Homo sapiens: one gene and its partners. The protein of the gene in region 4 purifies or fractionates together with the protein of the main gene of each other region. This does not show direct contact. Each region holds a gene or a part of one and is shown on either strand. Other genes may lie near its edges.

What was found.
Region 1: the proteins of DEPDC1B (region 4) and CA2 purify together in Homo sapiens (affinity purification with mass spectrometry, with the first as the bait; one large-scale study listed by BioGRID). This does not show direct contact.
Region 2: the proteins of DEPDC1B (region 4) and ZBTB21 purify together in Homo sapiens (affinity purification with mass spectrometry, with the first as the bait; one large-scale study listed by BioGRID). This does not show direct contact.
Region 3: the proteins of DEPDC1B (region 4) and NES purify together in Homo sapiens (affinity purification with mass spectrometry; one large-scale study listed by BioGRID and IntAct). This does not show direct contact.
Region 5: the proteins of DEPDC1B (region 4) and SFXN1 purify together in Homo sapiens (affinity purification with mass spectrometry, with the first as the bait; one large-scale study listed by BioGRID). This does not show direct contact.
Region 6: the proteins of DEPDC1B (region 4) and SMC4 purify together in Homo sapiens (affinity purification with mass spectrometry; one large-scale study listed by BioGRID and IntAct). This does not show direct contact.
Region 7: the proteins of DEPDC1B (region 4) and CHCHD3 purify together in Homo sapiens (affinity purification with mass spectrometry, with the first as the bait; one large-scale study listed by BioGRID). This does not show direct contact.

Annotation. Positions count from the first base shown.
Region 1 is NC_000008.11:85,477,507-85,481,006, forward strand, and holds part of CA2 (carbonic anhydrase 2), read left to right. Parts: intron 1-3,163; coding exon 3,164-3,283; 3' UTR 3,284-3,500. UniProt on the Homo sapiens protein: Catalyzes the reversible hydration of carbon dioxide. Can also hydrate cyanamide to urea. Stimulates the chloride-bicarbonate exchange activity of SLC26A6. Essential for bone resorption and osteoclast differentiation.
Region 2 is NC_000021.9:41,986,361-41,989,860, forward strand, and holds the end of ZBTB21 (zinc finger and BTB domain-containing protein 21), read right to left. Parts: 3' UTR 471-3,500; downstream 1-470. UniProt on the Homo sapiens protein: Acts as a transcription repressor.
Region 3 is NC_000001.11:156,674,608-156,678,837, forward strand, and holds the start of NES (nestin), read right to left. Parts: upstream 2,801-4,230; 5' UTR 2,658-2,800; coding exon 1,875-2,657; intron 734-1,874; coding exon 609-733; intron 1-608. UniProt on the Homo sapiens protein: Required for brain and eye development.
Region 4 is NC_000005.10:60,690,167-60,693,666, forward strand, and holds part of DEPDC1B (DEP domain-containing protein 1B), read right to left. Parts: intron 1-3,500.
Region 5 is NC_000005.10:175,509,560-175,513,059, forward strand, and holds part of SFXN1 (sideroflexin-1), read left to right. Parts: intron 1-549; coding exon 550-648; intron 649-1,891; coding exon 1,892-1,967; intron 1,968-2,551; coding exon 2,552-2,637; intron 2,638-3,500. UniProt on the Homo sapiens protein: Amino acid transporter importing serine, an essential substrate of the mitochondrial branch of the one-carbon pathway, into mitochondria.
Region 6 is NC_000003.12:160,398,383-160,402,449, reverse strand, and holds the start of SMC4 (structural maintenance of chromosomes protein 4), read right to left. Parts: upstream 2,801-4,067; 5' UTR 2,701-2,800; intron 1,892-2,700; exon of another isoform or gene 1,629-1,891; 5' UTR 1,624-1,628; coding exon 1,485-1,623; intron 536-1,484; coding exon 357-535; intron 1-356. UniProt on the Homo sapiens protein: Central component of the condensin complex, a complex required for conversion of interphase chromatin into mitotic-like condense chromosomes.
Region 7 is NC_000007.14:132,792,091-132,795,590, forward strand, and holds part of CHCHD3 (MICOS complex subunit MIC19), read right to left. Parts: intron 1-3,500. UniProt on the Homo sapiens protein: Component of the MICOS complex, a large protein complex of the mitochondrial inner membrane that plays crucial roles in the maintenance of crista junctions, inner membrane architecture, and formation of contact sites to the outer membrane.

The DNA of each region.
Region 1 (3,500 bases), on a different chromosome or scaffold from region 4:
GATTCAATGAGAAAGATGTCTGTCACCTAATAAATGCCTTTTTTTTTTTTTGCCAGTTATGAGGAAACTAAGGCTTAGAAAAGTGAGAGTTCATATTCAAGGTTACGCAGGTATCAGTGAGTTACCAGCCTACTACTCACTCACATAAGGGCTTTCTGCTATTTTATTTATATCAGAATGCATTTCTGAATCCTGACAGATGAGAGTCATCCCTTGGAGAACATGTATCTATTAAAACTCACTCCAGGTTGCTTTAGAGGCTTAGAGCAGGTATTCTTACATTTCCAATAAAATATAGTGTGTGATCGTCAAGTGATTAGTGCAGCTTCTAAGTCACTGATGAGCAGCCACTAAAGTGGATACAAATGAGTTTTTCCTAGACTTACCTCTTAGCGCACAGTTGAAATGTAGAAAGTGAACATTCCTTAGGATTCACAAGAGGATGGATCCTGAATAATTTAAGGATAGCTTTAGGAGCCAACAGTCTTGAAAATGGTAACTATGTGAGTAGTGGTAGTGTGATTTAAACCTACAAAAATGCTGAATAATAGAGGTTTAGAGCTGCAATGTGCAATAGAGATCATGTTGTCCAACTTTCTCATTTCACTGGCTTGAATCACATTGATCAACAGTCTGAGATGCAGGAAAATTGAAGTGTTTTCCACTCAGCTACCTTGCAACAGAATCAGGCCTGGGAGCAAGGATTCTATTCCTGTGTCCTCCCTTAGAATATGAACTTATGAATGCTGAAGATACTTCATATCTTTCTTTAAAGGAAATATGTATCTGACTGGAAAATTACTTGTAGCATATCAAAGTGGGCCTAAAAAATAGCATGCTTGGTATGTCACTTGAAGATTGACCTTGTAGTAATAACATATTTGAGTAAGCTTCTTGAAGTGTAGCGTAAGGAAAGATTATAATGCCCTTCTTTTTGTAGATGCAGTGTTTACATTATAATTTAAAACATGAATTTTTTTTTCTTCTTTCACTGAGAGCAATGCAACTTTAAAGCAATAGTCTGACATTTAGAGCCATTATAACAAATGGATTTATGGTGTATACACACCCACAGGCAGAAATACACATATAGATAAGGGCAGTTGAACCTACTGCATTAATCCCTGTACCCTGAGTTTGCTCTTTAAAGTTGAAAGTGGTATTAAACTAATGATGTTAATTGTATATATTGGCAAAATACCAATAGGGCTCTTTTTTTTGTCCTATAACATGGAATCTGGAGGAAGGATCATGCTCAGCTCAGGAAGCTAGGGCTGCAGGTCCTCCTCTATCTGAGTCCCTTGACTTGGCCTTGCCAATTGGTGACTTCATCCTCAAGGTGGTTGTAATAGCATTTTGAGCATCACATCTAGATATAACCACTTCTTGAGGAGGAAATGAATACCTCTTCCATTGGCTTCCTAAGAGCAGAGAAGCTCTTTCCTGAAGGCCCCTAGAAAACCTTTCACTTCTCACTGGCTAGAATTGTGTTTCTTGCTCAGTCCCTAGCCCGGGAATGTGATCATCACAGTCAGTTAAGACCTGCAGGTTTACCCCACTGAGGCTTACAGGGAGAGGGCGGATGTCTGTTAATGAGGAAGTATGGGGGGGCGTGGATTTTAGGTAAGCAGTATAAATGGGTCTGCTAATTCTGCTACCTTTATTTTCTATACCCAGGCTCTGTCTCTGTGATGCTAAAACAATGAGTCAAGTTGACTAATGTGACAGTGTAGTTTAATTGGTGCAGTGAGTAGCAGAAATCGGTTATACTGGTTTGATCAAAAGTTTGACCTGTTTACACTTTATGAACAGACTCTCTTTCAGATTGCTGGAATTCTGTTGTAACGAATCAACCCTATATATCCTTAGAATGCTCCCTTGCATTCAGTAACCATAGCTGTGCATGTTATAATGTATGTGCATGGAAGGTGGCTCTACGGGGGTGATTGAGGGACTATTACTGGACAAAAGAGATCAGGTTAAAGGCTGTTGATTCATGGGCTGCTATATTACTGTCCAAACCACCCTTTTGCATTTGGATCACGTCTTGGTTAGAGGGGGGAAAGTAGCACTTTTTGAGAACCTTGAAGAAGTGGGAGACTGTTCAACAGCTGCCTGTATCTCAGTGGTGGCCAGTAAACTGAAACAAGTTTATAAGGGAATAAAAATCAACCAGTGACAAGGGGTTCTAATGTTAAATGCATATATTGGCAAAATGCCAGTAGGGCTATGTAGGGTGGTGAGCACTCACAATTGTTCACTAAAATGCTGTTTTTAAAACAGGAAAGTAGAATGGTTGAGTGCAAATCCATAGCATGAGATAAATTGAGCTTCTTAAGGCAAATCAGCCTAGGCAAATTCATTTCCGTGTTTTTGTGTATTTGGAGATGCCAGCTCGTCACTCAGCCCATGGAGCTTACAGGTCCTGATCACTTGATCTAATTGTATGGATGTGGTAGTTTGTCTTCCCTGGGGCAGAAAACAAAGCTTTAATTTGGAACTAAAATTGTTATTATTTTGCATCTAAAGGTATGAGTTTATAGACTTTTGATGTTAGATTTTTAAATTAGAAGGTCACTGAAAATTTCCCTTAAAAATGACCCCAACGAATTTGTGTATTTTGTATAAATTGGTTTGTTATATTAAAGCATACATACATAATCTATATGTGATTATGTATTCATTAGGAATCAAACTGAATTTTGGCCATTGATGCACAGCACTGAATGTTGTGGAATGTAATTTTTGTTTGTTTTTGTTTCTGTTTTTTGAGGCAGAGCCTTGCTCTGTCGCCTAGGCTGGAGTGCAGTGGCGCAATCTCAGCTCATTGCAATCTCTGCCTCCAGGGTTTAAATGATTCTTGTGCCTTAGCCTCCTGAGTAGCTGAGATTACAGGTGCTCTACCACGCCTGTTTAATTTTTGTGTGTGTGTGTGTGTGTTTTTTTTTTTGTAGAGACAGGGTTTCACCATGTTGGCCAGGCTGGTCTCGAATTGCTGACCTCAAGTGATCCACCCGCCTCATGCCTCAGCCTTACAAAGTGCTGGGATTACAGGCATGAGCCACTGCGCCTGGCCGGGGAATGTATTTAAAGATATAACACAAGTATATAACTGAATACCATTGTGAAACATTAATTATCAATGTTTTATTGTGTCTTTTAGGTGTTGAAATTCCGTAAACTTAACTTCAATGGGGAGGGTGAACCCGAAGAACTGATGGTGGACAACTGGCGCCCAGCTCAGCCACTGAAGAACAGGCAAATCAAAGCTTCCTTCAAATAAGATGGTCCCATAGTCTGTATCCAAATAATGAATCTTCGGGTGTTTCCCTTTAGCTAAGCACAGATCTACCTTGGTGATTTGGACCCTGGTTGCTTTGTGTCTAGTTTTCTAGACCCTTCATCTCTTACTTGATAGACTTACTAATAAAATGTGAAGACTAGACCAATTGTCATGCTTGACACAACTGCTGTGGCTGGTTGGTGCTTTGTTTATGGTA
Region 2 (3,500 bases), on a different chromosome or scaffold from region 4:
ACGTTACAGGGAGAGCTAATAAAATTTTTAAAAATGATATACCCCGGTTTTACAGAAAAACCTCATTAGAATGAAAAAAAAAAGCTATGACATTAAATTCTTTAGATTATCAAATAAAACTGGTTTATCAACTGCTATGCAGAAATATCAATGCAGGGTACTTAAAAATGTTATTTTTCTGCATTTACCCCCCTGCCCCATCAACTTAAAAACTACCAGTTCGAATAGTAAAGGAAATGGCAGATGAGCAAAGATGGTTGCCTATCTGGTTTTAATCATCGTATTTGCGATGCCCAAATAACTAAAGCTTTAATACAACCTTAATTCTATAAGCAACCTGGAACGGGGGAAAATTAAATCTCTCACAGCTATTCACATTACCCAAATAGGAAGATTTTAACTTTACTTTCACAAATGTAAATGCTACACCCGGTTACTATCAAAGTACAGGGCATACCATTGAGACTGACTCGAAGCAAAATACAGTACAAATTTATTGACTCCAATCATTCTTAGTCAACATTTAAGCAAACTGTAGACAATGGAATTGAATACAAATAAGCAATGGATTAACATTAGATAGAAATCCTATTTTACCATGAATTTTCAGTTCGAAAAAGCTTATTCCTAAGTAAAATGGAAAAATGACTTACTCTGCTAAGGCATATGACAAAATACACAGAATTATAAAACCATTCGTTTTTCTTTTAACCATAAGCATATATTCAATGGAAAACTTGAAATAGCCTTGGACTAATGTTCTGAAAACTAGTATTAACTGAGTATAACTGTGTGAAAAATCTGGACAGCATTAACAAATGAAAGAGCACTGAATTCTGTTATTTTAAAGATTTACAGTAAAATACTTTGGTTCCCAAAAGACTGTCTCTAAAAGGAATTTTTAAAAACACCTGACATTGTAACTCATTTTTTCTCCTCCAGAATCTAAACACCAATTTTGTCTTCTCCCCAGTCACATGGGAATGCCACAAGCTGGAGTACCCGCTGAGATACACTGAAAGAGCATATTAAAAATTACAAAAAATTAAACTTCTTAAAGTGCTAAAACCACAAAAAGCCATAAATGAAAACCTATTTTTTAAAACTTAAAGTTTAGTAGTCAGTGTTAAAGAACACTTTTAAAGAGTACGTGTCAGCATTATTTAAATCAATAATGCATTTCACAATTATTGCAGAAACATCACTGAGACATCGTAAATTGTCAAACTGACTTGTAATCCAGTTAGATACAATTTATACAGAAATCTATTTGGAATTATACCTAATTACTTTTTACTAAGAAACTTCAAATAATTTTACTTCCTGAAGTTCCAGATTACAGTTGTATACACACATGCATGCATGTGTGTACAAACCCAATTTGAGACAACAAAGGCCAACTTTAGATCTGTTAATTCTTCCATCTCTCCCTCACCCTGATCAGAGAGTTGGCCTTGTAGGTGCATCCACACCGCACCTCCGTGAACAGACACATTTTATTCCTGTTTCACAGCAGCTACTCTCATTAGCACCAATGGGACTACATATGGATTCAAACGGTCACTCATTAAGTGCTGGGGCACATTTTTACAGGCAAGGCTATAAACGTTCCATTCCAAACCAGAAAACCAAGAACATCACACATCTCCCCACAAATGCAAAGAACATCACTGTTGAATTGTTAGTTGTATATTCTGGTAAAATTATAAATGCATACTAACTAGTTTTAAAGGTGAATATTCTACAAATCTTCAAATATTACTGTTAAAATGCACAATATTTGTTACCTCCATTGCTTACTTTGAGTGATAAAAACATGTTTTATGTTACTCCTTCCTTCTCCCACATAAACGATTCAGTATCAAGTTCTCAGATTAACAAAGAATATATTAAAACATTTTACATTCTTTCCACAACTGCATAAAAAAGCAGGCATCCTGCATACTTACATGGAATAAAGAGCTTTCTACATTTTCAAAATTAATTACAATCCTAAAATATATTTACATGAATATCTTCACTAGCTAATGAGTTGCAACAATTTAAGACCAACTTGTTTTACACCAAGTATTTGCCTACTGGCTGAGATAAACATTCTTAAAAAACTTTACTGAATAAAGTAATTAACATATCTTTCATTATTTTACTTCTTAACATTTAAAATAGTTACATGAGTGGAAGCATATTTTTTTTGACCACCAAAATAAACTCTTTCAGCCTAATGCTTTTAAAGTACAGTATAAAAAGTAATAGAAAAACCAGAACGGCATTATAAATGTTTTTGGTTCAAAATTTTATTTGAAATCTTATATTCCTTGCTTAGACAAAAATGTGAAGACAAAACACCAGTCATTTTTAAAATCTAACAGATATGCAGAACCTATGTTTAGATCAAAAATATTTTTTTTTTTTACTGATTAACAATATTATTTTTAAAAAATCTTCGAAAATGTAGCATAAAGGTTTAGGTCCTGGGATACTGAATTTATAATGCCAAGATACTCTGTATCATGGAATTATCACCGATAGATACTCTAATGGCCATGTAGGTGATGATTACTCAGGGAAACTGTCTTCTTTTGAAGTGACAGCTACCAAGATGGACAGAGTAAGAAATACCACATTATACGCGGAATGAATTCAATGTACAATAATCCATCCTGATGTTTCATGTAAACCCATATGCTTTAGTTTTATCCTTAAAATGCATAGATTTCTTTAAGAAAACAAAGATGGCAAGAATCAATAACTGCAATTTATTTTCCCTTCTCCATCAAATTTAAGAAAGAATAGGAAGTTAACTACTAAAATATTGTGGAATTTTGGAGTTTTTTCAAGTGAAAGAATACAAGGCAAAATTTCATATATAATATCCATAATGTACAAAGTCAATCAGTATTTTATAAAAATGTCTGGTTCAATAAAAAAAATGAGAATATCTTTCCTACCACTGGTATGGAATGTTGGCAATAAGATTGATGGGTACAGAGTTATTTTCTGCTAGAGCACAAATCTAAAATTATTTCTTAATGACAGTAGTTGGCTTTTAAAAAAAATTTGAAAGAATACCTCGTAACACAAACTAGAGTCTAAATTGGTATTACTTTCTTAAAAGGATTTTGTAGTTTCGTTTTTTTAATACATCTAACTCCCACCCCCACAAGTAAAAGTTTTCCCTTTTGAAACACATTGAACTTTGGATATCCTACTGAAAGGCTTTCAATTACAAATTATACATAGTATTCTTTGAAAAGCCCAAAACCCATGGAGCAAAATAAGTAGCTAAAACTAATTTTGGACCACTGATAGTGCTCTAATACCTATTTTTGAAATATTAAGCAATGATGTAGAGAATGGCCTTGCCCATGATTTTAACCATCAGACCCCCAACAAATTCTAACAGAAATTGTCACAAGAGAGAGGCAGGAAAATGTATATGTCGTATATATTGTTCTTGGAAAGCATGTTGAAACTGCAGTGAGGTGTTTCTCCTCTGCTCT
Region 3 (4,230 bases), on a different chromosome or scaffold from region 4:
AGAAGCCACCCCTCCTTGGTCTCAGCCATTTCTAGGATAACAGAAAATGTGGACAATGAAAGGCTGGGCAGGACCAAGGGCACTAGGGGCATCAGAGGAGTCTCGCCCCATGACATCCAGGCTAGAAGAGGCCTTGGAAGTCCCCCAGCCCAGCCCTCAGCCCCTAGACGAGGCTGAGGCCCAGGTCAGGTGGCAAGTCAGTGCAGCCACCCCATGCCTGCAATGCCTCCTTTCCGTGGCTGCCAAAGGACATGACCCCCTGGGTGCGGGCACACATAGAGTTGGAGCTTTGCCCCTTGGGGGAAGGGTCTGGATGCAGTTGCCCCACACGGGCCCAGCCCCTCTCCAGAGGCTGTCCCGCTCGGCAATATCATCTCTCCTGGGGGGATTTCCTGGGCACAGGACATTGCTCAGGTCTCCAGCCTATGGGGGAGCAGACGGTTTCAGGCAGGACATGTTCCGGTGTGGAAGTGACCAGCCTAGAGTCACAGAACCCAGTGGCAGCAGAGTTGCCATCACCTACACCTCTGGTCCCCTTCAGCCACGTAGTCTGCCCCAGCATGTGTGTGTGCCTCTGTGTGCCTGGGTGGACAGGGCTCGTCTCGTACCTGTACGTGGCCACCTCCAGGCTGAGGGACATCTTGAGGTGCGCCAGCTGCTGCCGACCTTCCAGGACCTGAGCGATCTGGCTCTGTAGGCCCTGTTTCTCCTGCTCCAGGGCCTCCACAGCCAGCTGCAGGGCAGGCGAGAGGCAGTCAGTGGAGGGGCTGGGGTCCCTTCTGTGAACCAACCTGCCTCCTGCCCGCTGCCGCTGCCCGGGAAGCACCTCCTGCTCCCTGGCTGACTTATCTGTGTAGCAGACCCCCGCCTCCCCTACCCTATTCCCTGCCCAGAGAGCCCCCTCTGGATCAGCCAAGATGAGCCCAGGGCCCCTGTCAGCACTCTCAGCTCTCTCCCATGGCCTGCTCCTCCTCTGAGGATGCTGATTAAATGGTAGCACATGTTGCTCAGAACACAGCTCCCACAGGAAGGGGAGGTGAGGGAGGAGACGAGATGGGTTATGGAGAGAGAAGAGGGGGAAAAAAAAGCGAAAGCAGAAGGAAAAACGATTAATCAAGATGCCTGGAGCCTGCAGGACTGGAAGGCAAACAGCCCCCGTCCCCCGTTGGTCCCATCTCCCACAACTGTCTCCTGCTCCTCACAGCAGGCTCTCACCCCCGCCCCACCCCCATTTCCCACATGTTCTGGATTCTGTCTCCTCTGAGAGGAGGGATGGGGAGGTGGCCATGGCACCTCTGTGTGGCCCAGGCAAGAAGCTGTTTTCTCAGCTGCTGGTCACATCTGTGCCCTGTGAGAAGGAGCAGCTGTTATGGGCCTCTGGAATGTGCTCCAGGGAGCCGAGAAGCCATGACATGGGAGGGGGCTGGTAGCCATTCATTCACGGCCCCTCACTCCTCCCCTCAGGAGAAGGAGGGCTGTGAGGAACTTGGTGATTCTGAGTGGCCAGGCCACCAGATTCAGCGCAGAGGCGACAGTGCTGGGTGTCCTCCTAGTAATACCAGAGCCTGGGAAGGGACCCGGAGCCCCGGTCATCATCAGAGCCAGAAGGTGCCATCCAGAGAGTGGCGGGGCTGCTGCAACGGGTCTTGGGCCTGACTGCCCACCCGGGATGTGCTTCGAGAAGCCCCACCATTCGCATCCTACACTAGACGGGCTGTAAAAGTCTAGGACTTGTGGCACCAGGTTTCTGAGAACTGGCTCCTGATTCAGCAGCCAGCTAGCCCCACTCCCTTCCCAGAAGGTCTCTGAGCTTCATAAGGGACTTTCTGGAGCTTTCTGGGACTTTCTCTCACCCAGGCCCTCAACCTCCTCACCTGGAACTTTTCAGTAGCCCGCAGCCGCTCCTGCCAGCGGCCCTCCAACCTCTGTTCCAACGCTGCCCTGCGCTCCAGGAGGCCTCCGCGCTCAGCCTGGAGCTGCTGCAGCTCCAGGCGGCCCTCGCGGGCACCCTGCACCGCCCGGCCCAGCCGCTCGCGGGCCTGGCCCAGCGACGTCTCCATGTGTGCCACGCGCTCCTGGTAGCCGCGCACTGCCCCGCGCCACGCCTCGCCCAGTCGCCTTGCCAGCTCCTCTACCTCCGGGGCCGGCGCGGGAGGCCCGCGGGGCGGCGCGGGGCAGCGGGGGGCACAGGCAGCCTGCGCGTTCAGGCCGACGCGCTCCTCCTCGTGCGCCACGCGTAGAGCCTCTAGCTCGCGCTCCAGCTCTGCCACCTGGCTACTCAGCCAGGCCCGGGCGCATTTCTCTGCCTCGACGGCGCGCCGGTTGCGGGCTACCTCCTCCGTCGTCCGCTCCCGGGCCAGCCGCAGCTGCTGGCATCGGCCTGCCACGCCCTCCAGCTCTTCAGCCAGGTTGTCGCGCGCCACCTCGGCCGCGTGCTTCTCCCGCCAGCGTTGGTCAACGAGGGCCCGCAGGGCCGCCAGCTCGTCGTCGGCATGCGCCCGCCAGGAGGTGTCCGCGGATTGTGCCCGGAGCCCCCCGAGCTCCGCGCTGAGCAGCTCATTCTGCTCCTCCAGCGCCTTGACCCGGGCCAGGTAGGCCTCCAGGCGCCGATTGAGCTCCCACATCTGAAACGACTCCTCCCCCATGCAGCCCTCCATCCTGCTCGTCTGACCCACTGAGGATGGACAGACGCGGGGCACCGGGAGAAGGGAGCGGCTCGCAGAGCTTTTAGGACGGAAGAGAAAAGAGACCGACGGGGACAATGACGGGGCGGGGCGGGGTGGGAGTAGCCTGAGCGACTGAGAGTCGGGAGTGGGAGCGAGGCTATTCATACTCCCGCCAGGCGGGCGGGAAGAGGGGCGGGACCCAGGCCTTAACCCCTTAGAGGTCAGAGAGTGGCAGCAGCCTCTGTTCCTGCTTCCCCAGGGTGCTGGAGAGTGGAACCAAAGAAGAAGCTGTACCATGGAGAATCGGATCTGATGGTGGTGGCTTTCTGAGGGAGGAGGCTGTGAAGAAGGGTCACAATCCCCGAAAAAGGCAGATAATGCACAGAACTGAGCCTGTGGGGGTGGGAGTACCAGGACGTTCCAGCCTGGGAGGGAGTGCAGTCTCAGTTACTCAACACATCCGAGAGAGGTATCACTTACTGAATTCCTCTAAGACTCAGTTTCCTCATCCATAAAATGTGAGCAATGATGGAAATCGCATGGCTGCTGAAAAAAATGGATGTGGCCAGGTTTTTGTTTTTCGTTTTTGAAATAGCAAATGCTCCTCCTCCTGAAATACTGGAGAGAGTACTACAGCATTGCAGAAAGAAGCTAGAGAGACGCTGCCTGGAAAACAAGAACAAATGTCTGATATTAGGACACACGGATACACACACACACACACACACACACACACACGCACACACGCTATTGCCTGAGTCTCCATCAGAAAAGGGAGCGACCAGGTTAAGGGCCGTCATGGGCTTAAGAACGTTTGTCCATCCTTCCTACAAGTCTTCTGTATAACTGCGAGGTTCAAACATCCGCTTTAGGAAGTTCTGTTCTTGGGGAAGGGCCCCTTCTCCCGCACCCCCTGCCAGGGAATGTTGGGTAGTGGACGCCCTCTGGCGGCTTTCAGAAGTGGAAGCAGCAGGAAGAGGCCATTCTTTTCCTTCCTAACGACTAGCCCAAGTTTATCCAGCCTTTATGATGTGCCCAGTCGTGTTCCAATATTTTACTTCCATGATCTGACTTAATCTTCAAAACAACCTTTTAAAGATTCTACAGTTTATGAAGTAGAGAGCTCACCAAGGGTGAGAGTAGTAGGGAAGGCTTTCTGGACGGAGTGCATCCTTGAGCTGGGAGGTAAAGGACAGGTGGGATTTGGGGGATTTACAGTGAAGGAGAAGTAGGGCTGGGGAGGAGATGCAGGGATAATGAGACGGAGGGGATCTTTGGGGAAGGCGTTTCTGATCAAGCTGCTAAATCCAATTTAGCTCAAGTGTTAATTGAGTACCTACTATGTGTCAGCACCAAAGAGATTGCAGGAACTCTGTCCCAGCCCTGGAAATGCTTATAGTTTGGTGATGTGAGGTCAACAGTGATGGGCACTCATAGTCTGTTGGTGGAGGTAAACATAAAAAGATGACTACAATACTTAATCAGCCTCCAAGGTGCTGGGGACAGAGCCAGGCAGCACAGAGGATGGAGAGGGTTTTCTGAGTAGAGGGTACAGCCGGGTCAA
Region 4 (3,500 bases):
ATAAACATAAGTATATTTATGCTTTATAATCAGAGAAAAATTAGAACTAATTTGCCATTTTATAATCAGAGAAAAACTAGAACTAATTTGAATAAAATTGACTGAAGCGTGGAATAGCCACAAAACAAAATACTATCAATAGTTCCAGACAGAAATAGATACCATAAATATAACAAAGTGGAAGAAAAACGTACAAAACACTATATATAATCTGATCCTATCTGCTTTGGTATATGCATATGAAAAGCTAAATGAATATACAACAAACTTAAAAATAAAGGAAAGTCATCTCTTTTGAAGAAGGAATATAAGGCAACTTTTATTGTGTAACATATTTCTAATTTCTTTCTACATAATTATTTCAACATCTTTTTAGGAACGTAGGCTCCCTGCCAGTCCTCCTAAAGTCCTTAAAATTCATAGTCATATTCTCATTTTCTCTTACTCTTCTCTTTCAAGTCTGTCACTTTATAAACTCCGAATCTTTTGTCTCTCACCTCTCTTCCTATTTAAATCAGATTTTTCTGACGTCATCTTTTTCTTTAAACTGTATTTCTGATCTCAGAGTTGTTTTTTGTTTGTTTTGCTTGTTTGTTTGTTTTTGCCCAACCTTGGGTCATGTTTTCCCTTCTAATCATGACTTTTCTTCCAGATTTCTCTTCATACTCTCTGCTGCCCAACCACCTGAGAAACTATTATCCTATTTCTCTTTTATTTTTGATGGCTAACCTTCTCAGCCACATTCATAATTCCTGAGCATACAACAGCAGGAGCTTGAGGGACAGAAGTGGGGTTTGTGTATGCATGTACCCCGGATGTGTAGCACAGTGTGTGACCCACACTAGGTAGTCAATAAGCAAGTGCTTAATCGATCTTTCACTTTTTCTACTTTTTTTTTTTTTTTTGAGACGGAGTCTCACCGTATAGTCCAGGCTGGAGTGCAATGGCATGATCTCAGCTTAATGCAACCTCCGCCTCCCGGGTTCAAGCGATTCTCCTGCCTCAGTCTCCCAAGTAGCTGGGGTTACAGGCATGCGCCACCACACCCAGCTTATTTTTATATTTTTAGTAGAGATGAGGTTTCACCATGTTAGTCAGGCTAGTCTTGAACTCCTGACCTCAGGTAATGCACCCACCTCAGCCTCCCAAAGTGCTGGGATTACAGGCATGAGCCACCACACCCAGCACTTTTTCTACTTTTTTTAACCAACTTCTCAACCTCAAGAAATTTAATCCCACTAATTGCTAGTCATGTCTTCCTCCTGGCCAAACTGAAATAGCTTTTTATTCTTACGTTAATCTTTCTACTTCTTTTGACACTGTTGTGAGTCATGCTCCAAATTAAGTTAGTCCAAATTTAAAATCTTTTTTAACTTAAAAACACACAGAAACAAGGCAAGCCACTGAGTAGGATAAGATATATCTATCATTTCCAAACAAAACAAAAAAAATCAATAAGAAAAAGACATTCCAATTACAAAATGAAAAAAAAATTTAAACAGGTATATCATAAAAAAAAAGATCTTCAAATGTCCTATAACATATACAAAGATGTTAAACCTCATTAATTATCAGTGCAATGTAAAAGAACTCGACAAGTCAATATCACAACATGGCTGTCAGAATAACTAAAATGAAAGACAGGTGGATCTACTGATCCCACTTTTGGGTATTTGCCCAAAACATTTCAAGTCAAGATGTCAAAGAGATGTCTGCACTCCCATGTCATTTACTATTTACAAGAGCTAAGTTATGGAATCAACCTAAAAGTCCATCAACAGATAAATGAATAAAGAAAATGTGGTATACATATACAATATAATACTATTCAGCCTTTAAAAAAAGAAAGAAATGTTGTCATTTGCAACGACATGGATGGAAGTGGAGAACATTATACCAAGTGAAATAAGCCAGGAACAGAAAAACAAATAATGCCTATTCTCATTTATACGTGGAATCTAAAACAATTGAGTTCAAAGAGGCAAAAAGCAGAATGGTGGTAACCAGAGGCTGAGGGGAGTGGGGAACGGGGAGATAATGGTCAAAAGGTACAAAGCCTCAACTAGACAGGAAATTATCTTTTTTATTTGAGATATCTTGACATCATGGTGAAGATATTAATAATAATGTACTTTCAAAATCTGAGAGTAAATTGCAAGTGTACAACAAAAAAATGTTAAGTATTTGAGGTGATGGATATGGTAATTAGCTTGATTTAATTATTCCATTGAATTCGTAAATCATAACATCATTTTGTACCCTATGAATATATACAACTATAATTTGTCAGTTTACAACTTACAAAACTAAAATTTTTTTTAGAGACCTAAAAAATAAGAAAAAAGGTAGGCAACACTAAGTGCTGGTAAGAATGTGAAAGAACTAGAAATCTCATACACTGCTGTAAGGAATGTAAATTGGTGCGACCAGTTTGGAAAACAGATTGGCAATATCTACAAAAGCTAAATATCTGAACACCTTATAACTCAGCAATTCTACTCCTAAGCATATACCCAACAGAAATCCATATATATGCTCCCCAAAAGACACATTGTTCATAATGGCACTATCCATAATAGGCAGAAACAACCCAAATGTCCATCAACATAATAAGTTATAATATATTCACCAATAGAATGCAGTGAAAATGAACGAACTATTGCTACATGCCATAACATAAATGAATCTCAGAAAATAATATTGAGATGAACAGGCCACATATGAAAAGTAAATACTATATGATTCCATTTACTTGAAGCTCAAAAGCAGGCCAAACGATCCATGATATTTAAAATAATGATAGCAGTTACCTTCATAAGGAGGTAGGGACCAAGTGGGGGAAAGGAGACTTCTGCGGTGCTAGTAATATGATATTCCTTGATCTGAATGTTGGTTACATGGGATGCTCACTTTATGAAAATTTGTTGAGTTGTACACTTTTTATACAACTCAACAAATTTTTTGAGCATTTTTCTGTACATTATGCCTAATTAACACCTAAAAACAAAAACACATACATACACATATGCACATGTTCACATACTAAAATTATTACCCACATGAAAGTTGGCAAATATGAACTGGTTGGTTGGGGTGGTAAACTGGATGTGGAAGAGAGTAGGGAGGTTGGAGAAGAAACCAAGTGAGTGGATGAAGGAGGGAAAGTATGTAAACAGGAAAAGCAGAGCAAAGGCTAAATAATGAATAGTAGAAAGGAAGCCCATAAAGAGTCCAAGAACGCTGATTTAACTTCTCTACCTATCCACCCACTTTACAAGGTTATTGTAAGATCAAATGAGATCATGACTATAAAAGTCCTTTGTTAAAAATGCGTTCCTCAAATTTAAGGATAATATATAAAATGTCCAGGATATCTCTTAAATTATAAGGTTCAATCTATTCTAGAGCTGGAAAAAATCTTTGGGACAAAATCAAGACCTTAGCAGGATACACAACTTAGCAAATGTCATTCAGGTACTTAGTCTGTGAATAAGATCTGG
Region 5 (3,500 bases), about 110 Mb from region 4:
TAGTTGTTCAAAAGGAGGTTGAATTTTTTTTCTAAATCTTAGCCCCAAAAGAGAATGAAGTGGAGAAGGAAAATAAAGAGTCTGCAGGCAAATTCTCCTTTGACTCCATTCATATAGATATAGGTATAGGTATAAGTGTAGATATAGGCACATTAAAGGTGTATGTGTAGACATAGACATATAGCATTGCAAGTGCTGTTAGGAGGGCCCAGGACCGCTTAGCCTACAAATTGTATCTTTTTTCCCCAAGAGAAGGGATCTGGCATTTATTGAATGTCTATTCTGTACCAGGCTCTCTACAAATTTTATCTTACTTCATCCTCATAGTAACCCTCTGAGCTTGGTGTTATCTATATCTACGGAATGAGGAAACTGATGATCCCAGAGGATAAAAGCTTGCCCAGCACACAGATCCTAAGCCTGTGTGGCCTTATGGCTTTCTCCCTTCCCCAGTACGTCTCCTCTCTGGTTACTGGTGTTCACGTTTTCTGTTCCATGCCGCGGCTGGGCCCAGTGATGGTGGGTATGTGACGGATGCCTCTGTTTTAGGACTACGCCGGCTGTGCTGTTCTGGCAGTGGATTAACCAGTCCTTCAATGCCGTCGTCAATTACACCAACAGAAGTGGAGACGCACCCCTCACTGTCAAGTAAGGCTACGAGAATTGACCACTCTCTGCAGTTCTTCAACCTTCATTTTATTAAGTGGTGATACTCTCCTGTTTAAAAAAGCCTATGTGTGCATATTTTTATATTGTTCAGAATATTATGTAGCATCCTTTTTTGTAGCTTTTTTCTTTTTTAAAGTAAAGTGTTTCATTTTCTCTCTCCCTATCAAGAAAACAGTCTTCTTCCAGCCTGCCTTCTCAGACATTACTCGTGCCTTTGGAGGTACTGGTAGGATGTTACCTCCTTCTCACCCTGGAGCTCATGGCCCTGTAGAACACATGGCAGGCAGCACCGGCCTGGCCTCTGATAAGTGACAGGCTGTTCCGCCATCTACCCTGCCTGAGTTGACAGACACCAACGTTAAGAGTAGAGGAGACAAAGTGTGGTCTCTGCAGAAATCAAGGGGAGACCATGGCGGTGTGAACTTTATATCTGATATGTTTTTAAAATAGCTCATCTGTGGAGTCCAAAAGAAAGCAATGAGTTTTAATTTTTTGTCACCTGTTAAAAAAAAAATAGGCTCACAAGATTAGTTAACCAAAAACGTTAGTTAGCATAATTGTATTACACTTGAAAGAAAAGTGCTTCTCTTTTTTATCACTTAAAATTGCTTTTGACAACACATATTCTTCTACTATTGTTATATGGAACAAAGGATCTTGAAATCTGCAGCCAAGTGGTGTTTATTGCAATTAAAATTTCTTTTAAAAGAAGAGAGAATTGCTTGGGCTTTATAGTTTTTGGATGATAAGACTTAGTATTTTTATACAGTTAAGATATCATTTTTTAAATGGCAGCACTTCATTTTTGCTTTCAGTGTGTATATTAATATTTTGAGAAATATTTTTAAGCAAATATGCCCCAAACATTTAGCCCAATATGCATTCCCCTGTATTCATAGCTTCCTACACACAGCTCCCCTCCTTCTCACGAATACAAAGTCTGTATGTTTATTTATTTATTTTAACCAACTCACTTCAAAGAATACATGTCTACTTTTTTGGAGTTATAGTCAAGATACGTGTGAAGAATCCCATTGTTTATGGATCTGCTTGCTTTTTCTCTAGATTCCCCTACTTGTGGAGTGATAGTGAATGTTGTTTTGTAGACTCTTCATTCTGAATCATGCTCTTTTATATTTCCCTTTTATTTCTTCAAATAATGTTGCACCAGAGTTTCCTGACATGCCCTCGTCGTCCACACGATATCCTTTTTTCTTTTCAGTGAGTTGGGAACAGCTTACGTTTCTGCAACAACTGGTGCCGTAGCAACAGCTCTAGGACTCAATGCATTGACCAAGGTACTCAGATTTTTATTTCCATAATAAAGCTGTTTAATTTGTTATCACCTGCCTGGCTCTAAATCCCTCTATTATTTCTTAAACTAGTTCAAGTCATATGGCTTTCTTGTTATAGTGCTTATCTTCAGCTGCATATTTTAGTTATATCTTCCAATAAGTTTGGGAAGAGTTGTCACCAGTAACACCTACCAGGACTGTGGTCTGTGCCTGACTCTGTGTACGAAGTGCTAAATGTTCACCCATCCTGACAGCCCACCAGAGGCATTGCAGAGGGCAGTGTGCCTCAGGCCACAGCTCTGAAGAGAGGCAAGAGCATCTCTCTCTCTCTCTCTCTCTCCCCACTCCAAAGCCCATACTCCTGCAACCACACTTAGCTACAAGGCCTTAGAAGCTTGCATGGTCCCAGCACACCCATGTGGGAAATATACAAATACTGCTAGGAAAAGTTTTGAAAGCATTCTTGGCCTGAGTTTCTATGCAAATGGGACTCTGCATTTTTCAGAGTTTTCAAGAAGAAATAAGTTATTTCCATTTACTAGTACAGGAAAAATAAGATAAAGCTCTTGAAATTTTCTCCTCTGCAGCATGTCTCACCACTGATAGGACGTTTTGTTCCCTTTGCTGCCGTAGCTGCTGCTAATTGCATTAATATTCCATTAATGAGGCAAAGGTAAGACGAATATGCACTCTTAGTAGGGACATGTGCTTGACAGGAGAGTCTCTTGTAATAATTAGCTTTGTTGAAACTTTCAAATGCTTGTTTTAATATGTATAGGTGAAATTATATGAGATCTTGGATTTCTTTTGAAATACTCTGGGGTTGGGGATGAGGATGGGCGTCTTGAGAAAACAAGCTTAGCGATGAGTTACTGATTATTGAAGCAGACTGAGGAGTGCGGGGAGGGGGCTGATGCTGGAATAGTCTTTCTATGTCCGTATAATAAAAAGTTTAAAAGATATATCTCAAGCTTACATTGAGTTGTGCTTGGGTTGGACAAAGTCTATCCAAAGAAAGTTTATTCTCTAAAATAGATTCCTTTTTTTTCTCCAGAATTTTCTTTTGGGGCTTAAAGTACATTATTCTATATCTTTGGAAGTATTGTTGTAGAACTGGCAAAAATTAAAGGAGAAGAAAGAACAACAAAAGCATTTTGGAATGGATAACGAAAAACAGGGGTAACGGTAGAAGTTATACTTAGTGTTAGTAAATATAGTTAATAAATATACAGTAGGGCCATGTGCGAGTGACTGTTTCCATGTCAGCATATTAAGTTTGTTGACTTAATAATGCTGTGTATTATATCTGTTTCTCATTTGGAAAGTTGCTCAAATTTGCACATGAGCATAGATTGAAGTTAGTGTGTCCACCCTTTGAATCATATTGTTCCTGAAAAAGGTACACCCTGTTTTAAAAGTTTACTAGTGTTGTTTTACTTTTATTTCTATCAAAGGAGGATTAAACTTATCCATGGTATTTAAAAATAGATGTGTCTGCTGGGCGCAGTGGCTCACACCTGTAATCTCAGCACTTTG
Region 6 (4,067 bases), on a different chromosome or scaffold from region 4:
TTAGAAAACTCATTTTATAGTTAAATTATCTAAGGGTTCCATAGAAGGCTTTAAGAAAAAAAAATTATCCAAGGGAAAATACTCTTTCAAACAGAAACACACACCGACTCCATTCAATGGAAAACTTTGTAACTAGAGGTACCAAAGATAACCAGATAAACAAAAGATAATTTCAGTGTTAAAATCATATGAAACGTGTGTGTGTGTGTGTGAGAGAGAGAGACAGAAAGACTATCAGGATAAATAGGGAGTGAATGAATTTTAGGATAGTTACAAAACTGAAACATCTTGTAAAAACGTATTACCTTACAATAGTTATTTAAAAAGTTATAAAATAGTTATTTCCATACAAATACCTTATGGAAAGGTCCCAGAATTTTCTCCCCAGCATAGGATTTGAAGTTCTGGTTTACAATATGAGTTATCATAAGCCGAGGAGCTCCAGCTTCATTGGTCATTGCTGGAGGCGGGGGAGGAGGAATGCTGTTCAAAATCTCTTCTAAACTTCTATTATCAAGTTCCTCACTTGCAGTCTCTAAGTCAGTGAAAGGAAAGGAAAACGAAGGCAAACGGCGGGGGAAAAGCCTACATTAGTGCAATTAGTTCGGAGAACTAATGACTGCCCATCTTTAAAGTAGGGGATGGAGGGATGTTATTTATGAAACTTAGGAGTCTATATTTTCCACTTAAATATGTTATTATCTTAAACTCACGGGGGTGACTAAACCTTCAGCTTGGTTTTACTAAAAAAGAAATTCTTGAAAGAAATGCCACCGGTCACAAAATTCTATACACCTATACCTCTTAAGAGTCAAAACACTACATCATAGAGCAAATCTGGGAAAACCGTAACAAGCTATTTCCTGCTGCCTATCCTAAACAGGAGGTTAAATCCTAAGGCTCTAGATGCAATTCTCCGTACCGCTGAGCACCTGGAACCTTCATTTTGGAAACTCATGAACTTCAGCGACACTGCCACGAGGGTTTAATAATGTCACCCAACTCCTGGACTCACAAAAGCTACAGTGGCTTCAAATAAATTATCGTCTTCTCTTTAACGGCAATCTAACACCACGGAGGTGAGGTTAGGGTCAAAAAACTTTTCATCATGCTCACATAGTCATATTGATTGTCTCTGGGAAAAAAGTCCACTTGCTCTCTTGATTGACCGTCTCGATTTTAGCGGGAATACAATAAAGATATTGAATTTTTGTTTGTGACCTGTACCATTCCACAGGTCACAAACAAAAATTCACAACTGAACCCGTTTGCTCGCCCCCATCCCTTCCAGCGCCGTTACACCAAAATTGCACGGGAATCCTATCTCAAAGTTGCCAAATGGCTTTCCTGAGCCTCTACCGGACCGACACCGGACCTTCAGATGTCAACTCCGCGCTCAACAACCCCAGCCAGCCTCGGGCTGGGCGCGTTTGCCTGCCAGTCCCACAGCGCGCGTTCCCGCCGAGTCGCGGCGGGTCACTCACCTGCGGCGGTGGCTGGGCTCTCCGTGCGGCCGGACGGCGGCTCAGGCTCCGCGTCGCTGCTGGCGCCGTCAGGGGACGGCGGCGGCGGCCCTTCCTCTCTGCGCCGGGCAGTGGAGGGCTGGGTGCCTTTACGGGGCATGGTCGCTGGGGCCGGGGGACAGCCGGGAGCAAGTCAGCCCGCGGGCCGCTACACCGCGCCCGCCCCACCCGGGGAAATCTCGGTCCACCGGCTTCCGAGAGCCCCGCTTAACACTCCGCTTAGAGGCAGCGGGACTTCGGGAAGGGAGCCATCGAAAGACACGAGTGGCAAGAAGGCAGGACTGGTTTCTTAACAAGACCTATGTAAGTGGGAAAATCTAGACGTGCCTGAGGATCAATCAACGATTGAGCAACTGCTTAGTTTGTTGTTGTTGTTTTTAAGGCTCTCCACCCGTCCGCCCATAGTATAAGCGTATAATATTCGCTAACGCATTTCTAATTAAGGAACTCCCATACGCCAGCATTTCCGGACATTCCCACGCTTTCGGGGCCAGGGATGCAAGCGCGCACCGACGTGGAGAAACGAGTTCGTGTCCGGGTCAGGATCCCGTGGCTAGCAACTCTCTCCAGAGCGGTGAAGACTAACTGGCGACTCGCCGCCCGCTTTCGTCTGCCCGCCCTTTAGCTCCTGGCGCCGTTGACGGCCCGGGGCATAACGAAGTCTCCCTCCTCTCAGCGGTCGGACCGCGAAGGGCGAAGGCTGGGACTAACCACTAGCAACTTCAAGTCGGACGCTGGCAGCGCTTGCTAATTTTGGAGTGGCAAGAGTTTGTCTCTCCAGCTCCCCAGGCGGAGTCCCGTTGGACAGTAAACCATGAAAGGTCACCAGCGAAGGCTGAGACCCGGTGACTAGTCCGTTGGCAGAAGGAAGAGGGGTAGGGGGAGACGCCCTTTTCCAGATAGAGACTAGGATTTTTTAAAGAAAAGATCTGCGAGGCTCAGGGCCTCCCCGAGACATTTGAGTAGCTTGGAAAAGTGGCGCCCGGGAGCTGCGCGCGGGAGCCCGGGCCGCCGGGGAGCGGCCGAGGGGGGAGGGGTGACAGCAAGAGAAATCTCCCAGCGGCAGCTTCAAGCCCGGACTTCGCCGCTCGGGCTCAAGGCCTCTATTTTCCAGGCGCTCGCGGACAAGGCAGGAAGTAAGAGCGTGACAACCTGACCAGGAAGAGAAGTACTTTACCTGCAGGACAGTCCACTCAGACCAAGGCTGGAGACGGTTGTGTAGTACCCACCTCCCCGCTCCTACCGGTGTTTCGGCTCCGGGTCCTTCACTCGAAAATGGCGCCTAAAATACAAACTCGAACGGAAATTCGTTACAAATGCGCGCAATGATTTCTGGGATCCACTAATTTGAAAAAAAGTGCGGCGATTATCACCGCCATCTTATTGTCGCTCCTGCGCATGCGCGAACTCCTGGCGGGACCTACGCGGTAGAAGTTTCTACTAAGTGAAAAGGAAGAGCGAGGGATTCTTTTCTCTGTGGTCTACAGCAGCAGCACTATTATTAAAAATATTTGGAAAGACAACCTGGCAAGTTTTGAAAAAGATTTTTTTAAAAACGGTAGGGTTCCGCTCACAGTGGGAGGCGGGGCTCAGTGGTCCAGAAACGCCTCTTCAGAAGAGGGCGGGCTCGCCGAGAGGCGGGGTCTCGGGCCCACTCGGATGACGTGCCGCGTAGAAGTATCGCGGGAAGAGGAAGGGAGCGTAACTCTTAGAAGTCACTATGGTGACGGGGAGGTACCAGGTATTTGAGAGCAATCGCCACCGCTTTCCTGGAACTTGAGGTAAATCCCTTCACCTCTGGACCTGGTGAGAAAAGGGTTTGGAAGTTGTAGCCATCACTGGATCCCATCTTTCCTGTTTTGAAGCTGTGTGCTTCGTGGAGCATCATTTTCTGTCTCCCTGGCGGCAGCGGGGCTCCGGGTGTAGCTTTTGGGATGCGAAGGAGGAAGCCCTAAATTTTAAGGGAGTAGAGAGACAACTGGAAGACCTGGATTCGTGATAGCTTAGTCGACATGTGAATAGCGCAATAATGATTTTCGAGATCATTGGTGTTACTAGTGAAAGGTTTAGGACTTTTAAAATAATTTGACTAAAAGGCTCTTTAGTGGAAAAAACGACTCGCCAGTGTTATGGTTATTTTTATGAGGAAATTATCGATCAGCAAATATTCCCTAAGTAGTGTTTGTATACATTGCCCTGGGTAAGGCATAATTAGAATTAGTAAGCAAGTTTGGCGATTCCTGTTCCCCGAGAACTTAGTTTTAGTGGGTTTTTAACCTGAGGTCTGTGGATCTGGTGGTAGGTGATTGGGCTTCAGAGTTCATAACTCGCCTGACATTGTATACATAATTCTATGTGCATTTTTCTGGGAAGTTAGTTTTCCTACAACTTTATAATCAGAATCTCATACTTGCTCCTAATTCCCTATATTGTTAAAGAGCCACTGGCTCATTTGACTATCTCCAGTATTCATGCAACAACTCTTAAGTACTTGACATTGAGAACTACTAGCCTCCTTTTTTTTTCTTTAACTTTTGCTTACTT
Region 7 (3,500 bases), on a different chromosome or scaffold from region 4:
ACCTCTGTCCCTTGGGCATCTCCTGGGGTTGGTCCTTGCCTCTGGTCCCAGTTTGCCCTTGGTTGTCAGGCTCCAGGTTCCTGGCTTCCTGCTCTGTTTTCAGAGTCACACTTCCCATGGTACTTCACAGGATGAAAGGCATCACGATCCAGGGGAGGCTTACGGCTGGCTGGAGGGAGCCTGCATTTTCTAATGGCCTTTATTAGCCGGCAGGGTACATTCTGCCAGCCAGTGCAGAGACAGCTGTTTTTCACTTCACTGACTTTGGAGAAACTGTGAAACTGTTTCTATTCCCTCCCAGTTCTTTCTGCCACCTTGGCTTCCCCAGGGCTGTCAGGAGTGTGAACCTCAAAGAAAGGGTACGTAGCAGTGGGAGGCCAGGCAGCAGCAGACCAATCAGAAATGCAAGTGTTCTTCTTGAGTGAACGTTTAAGGTGGACAGCAAAATTTAAGAGGCGAAGGCACAAATACTGGAGGTCTCAAAAGGAGAGGTGCTGCTTGTACCAAATAGGCCATGTCTCTTCATCTGAGTGCGCCTATGAACAGGCATGCTTATGCACACCATCTTTTGCTCTATATACTTCAAAGCAGAATCAGTCCTAGAATAACAGAGCTAGATGGCCCTCATGGATCACCTGGTTCAAACCTTCAGTTTATCAAAGCAACTGAAGCTCAAGTCACTATAATTAGATTAGGATTGCAGCAGCAGTATTTCCTATAAACCCCACCCTCCCAGTGAACACAAAATGTGCCAGAAGGGTCCAGCCAGCTTCTGCATTTTTCTGTCAATAGCAGCAGGGCTGGGAAAAAGCTGAAATGCTTAGACTAGCAACTCCCAATGCAGCCCAATTCTACAAGTAAATAGTAGAGAGGTGGTATGTCCCAGGGAATGGTCCCAGACGTAATGCAGATCTGACAGCAAACCCTTTCGACACCCTTCCCCTTTTTTAAAAAACAGAACTTGGGCACATTTTGGTCTACCCATGAGCAAATACTATTGGCTTCTCATTCCCGCTCCTTTCCATTTCTCCTGTAAGGTAGGTGGTGTGCATAAGCATGCCTGTTCATAGGCACGCTCAGAGGAAGAGACATGACCTATTTGGTACAAGCAGCACCTCTCCTACCTTAGGTAGGTGTAGCAAGATAGAATGGGAACCAGGTATCAAAGGTAAGAAGAGGTAATCCAATCTTGCTGAGCTTGAGAAAGTTATGAGGCTAAGCAGATATGAGAAACAAAAGACACAGGACTATGTATCAATCGATGTGCTCCTTCCTTTGTAAATGCTGTATCTCATACAGCCAGCCAGCTGGTAGCTTTTAAGTCTTAGAAATAATAATTAGAGCTATTTAATATCTCTTTACCCTCATGAAGAGCACATAAGTTAATACACAAGAAATAATAGCCTAAATGTCTCATGTCAACCCATGAGAAATTGTTGAAGAACAGCTGAAGAAACACTGATATGAATAAGTGGATAAATAAGCAGAGAGGAAGAGTAAGGCTAAGGAATATCCGGAAATTTTCCTAACAGTAAAACCTATTAGTCTCTAGAACAATGCCCCAGGGAACCCGTGAAAGGCCAATCTTATGAGTTATTTAAAAGTGGAGTGGACTTAGCCATTGGAATTATTCCATGGGGGAAACCCTTGCACTGTGTCGGATATGGACAACACTGCCTAATGGCTTGTTGTCATGTATAGTATTTTCCATGTTTAGCATGTCCAGCTTGTTCTCTGGATTTAACAGGAAACATAAGAAGAAAATGTAAGAAGTTGGCCCATGAGGAACTGCTAAAATAGGCAGTCGGGACTACGTATCTTGCCGGAGTCTCTTAACAGGGGCACAGCTGGGGTCATGAGGTTAGCCTAAATTCACAAGGAGCAAAAGGACAACCTGGTATTGGAAGGAAAGTAACTGCTCATGAAACACTGATAGAAGCTCCTTCTGGCCACTGTGGCGTGATCTTAAAATGGGCCAGTGCCAAGTTGCCCCTTTCATCACGGGCTTCATCAACCCACTCCCCATGTGTGACCTTCAGACTCTGTCCCCCGCTCATTAGATCTTCCACATTCTGTGTCCTCCCTTTATCGCTTTCGCTCTCACTTTCCCTTACTGCCTTATTTCTGCATTAGTGGATGATGGATGGATGCCCCTTCACAAACTTACCCACTCAAAAACCAAATGCCACTTATGTATTTTGAAATTTTTTGTTTTTATGGCAAGGTACATCTTGGTCTAGCTGTTAAATTCACTATTGTGACTTCCCTGAGTTTCAATGCTCTCAACTGGAAAATGGTGAAAATAAAACCATCTCTATTTACATCTCAGGTTGTCATAAAAAAACAAGTAAAAGAATGGATGTGAAATGACCTTGCAATCCTAACTACTGCCGAAATGTAAGGTGGTGCAGGTTCTTGGTTCTCGTCCATTTCAATGTTGCCCATCTCAGGAAAAAAGGTTTGAGGGCTTCTATCTTTTTATTATTAACTTGTATTATACACCTCCTAATAACTGAATATAAGAGCCACGAAAACAATAGATACTCCAAACATACTAGCTGAACATAAAAGATTGGAGAGTGAGGGGGAAAAAAGAGGGTCTCTTTTGAAATCATTAATAATAATTTGATGCTTTTGGCTGACCTGTTTAGTAAATTTCAGCACAATAATGCAACTGAGGAAAGAAGGGGAAAAATAAGATTTACTGAATACTTTATATAAAGGTAATCCTCACAACATTACCCCAATTTACAGATGAGAAAACTCAAGCCCCAAGGTCACAGAGCTGGTAAAAGGACAGGGTACAAACCCAGGTCTGCCAGATTCAAACTCACTATCGCGCCATGTGGCGTATTTGCTTTTGTCACAAGTTAACTTTGCTTTATCCTATAAATATATACCATTGATGTCACAAGACTATATGTAGATAATTCAACACAACCCAGACAGGCAGGATGGGGTCAGCACTCCCAATGCCCCTGCAGCTGCCACTGTGGTAATGTTACAAATCACATGGTACAAACAGGCACGTATGTTAGAGACCAGCATTGAAACATACACTTTGTCACAACCACTCTTTTCCACTGACCACCAGCTCAATAAGGCACTATTATCAAGTTAGAAAAATCCATGAATCAACCTACGAGTCTCAAGTCCTTCAGTTCATATTCATATTGAAGGCTGGGGTTTATTAACAGCATATCAGAAGCTGTTTTCGACAAATAAAACGTACTAACTTAACATTAGCAACATTACCTGTACCAAAGACCTTTAATGAAAAGGATCCCTGGCATACTACTAAGAGTTATACAAGTGCAGCTACAAGCAAGAAACAGAAAAAAGCTGCCAGCCACTAGGCTTTTGAGGACAACATAGGCTTTTAATAAATCTTGATTATATTCTTTCCACTAATGTTACTTTATTTTCCAGCTATCCAGATAATACTAACCCTCCCGTCGGATATTTGTAGAGTATAAAAATTTTACACCAAGTGATATTAT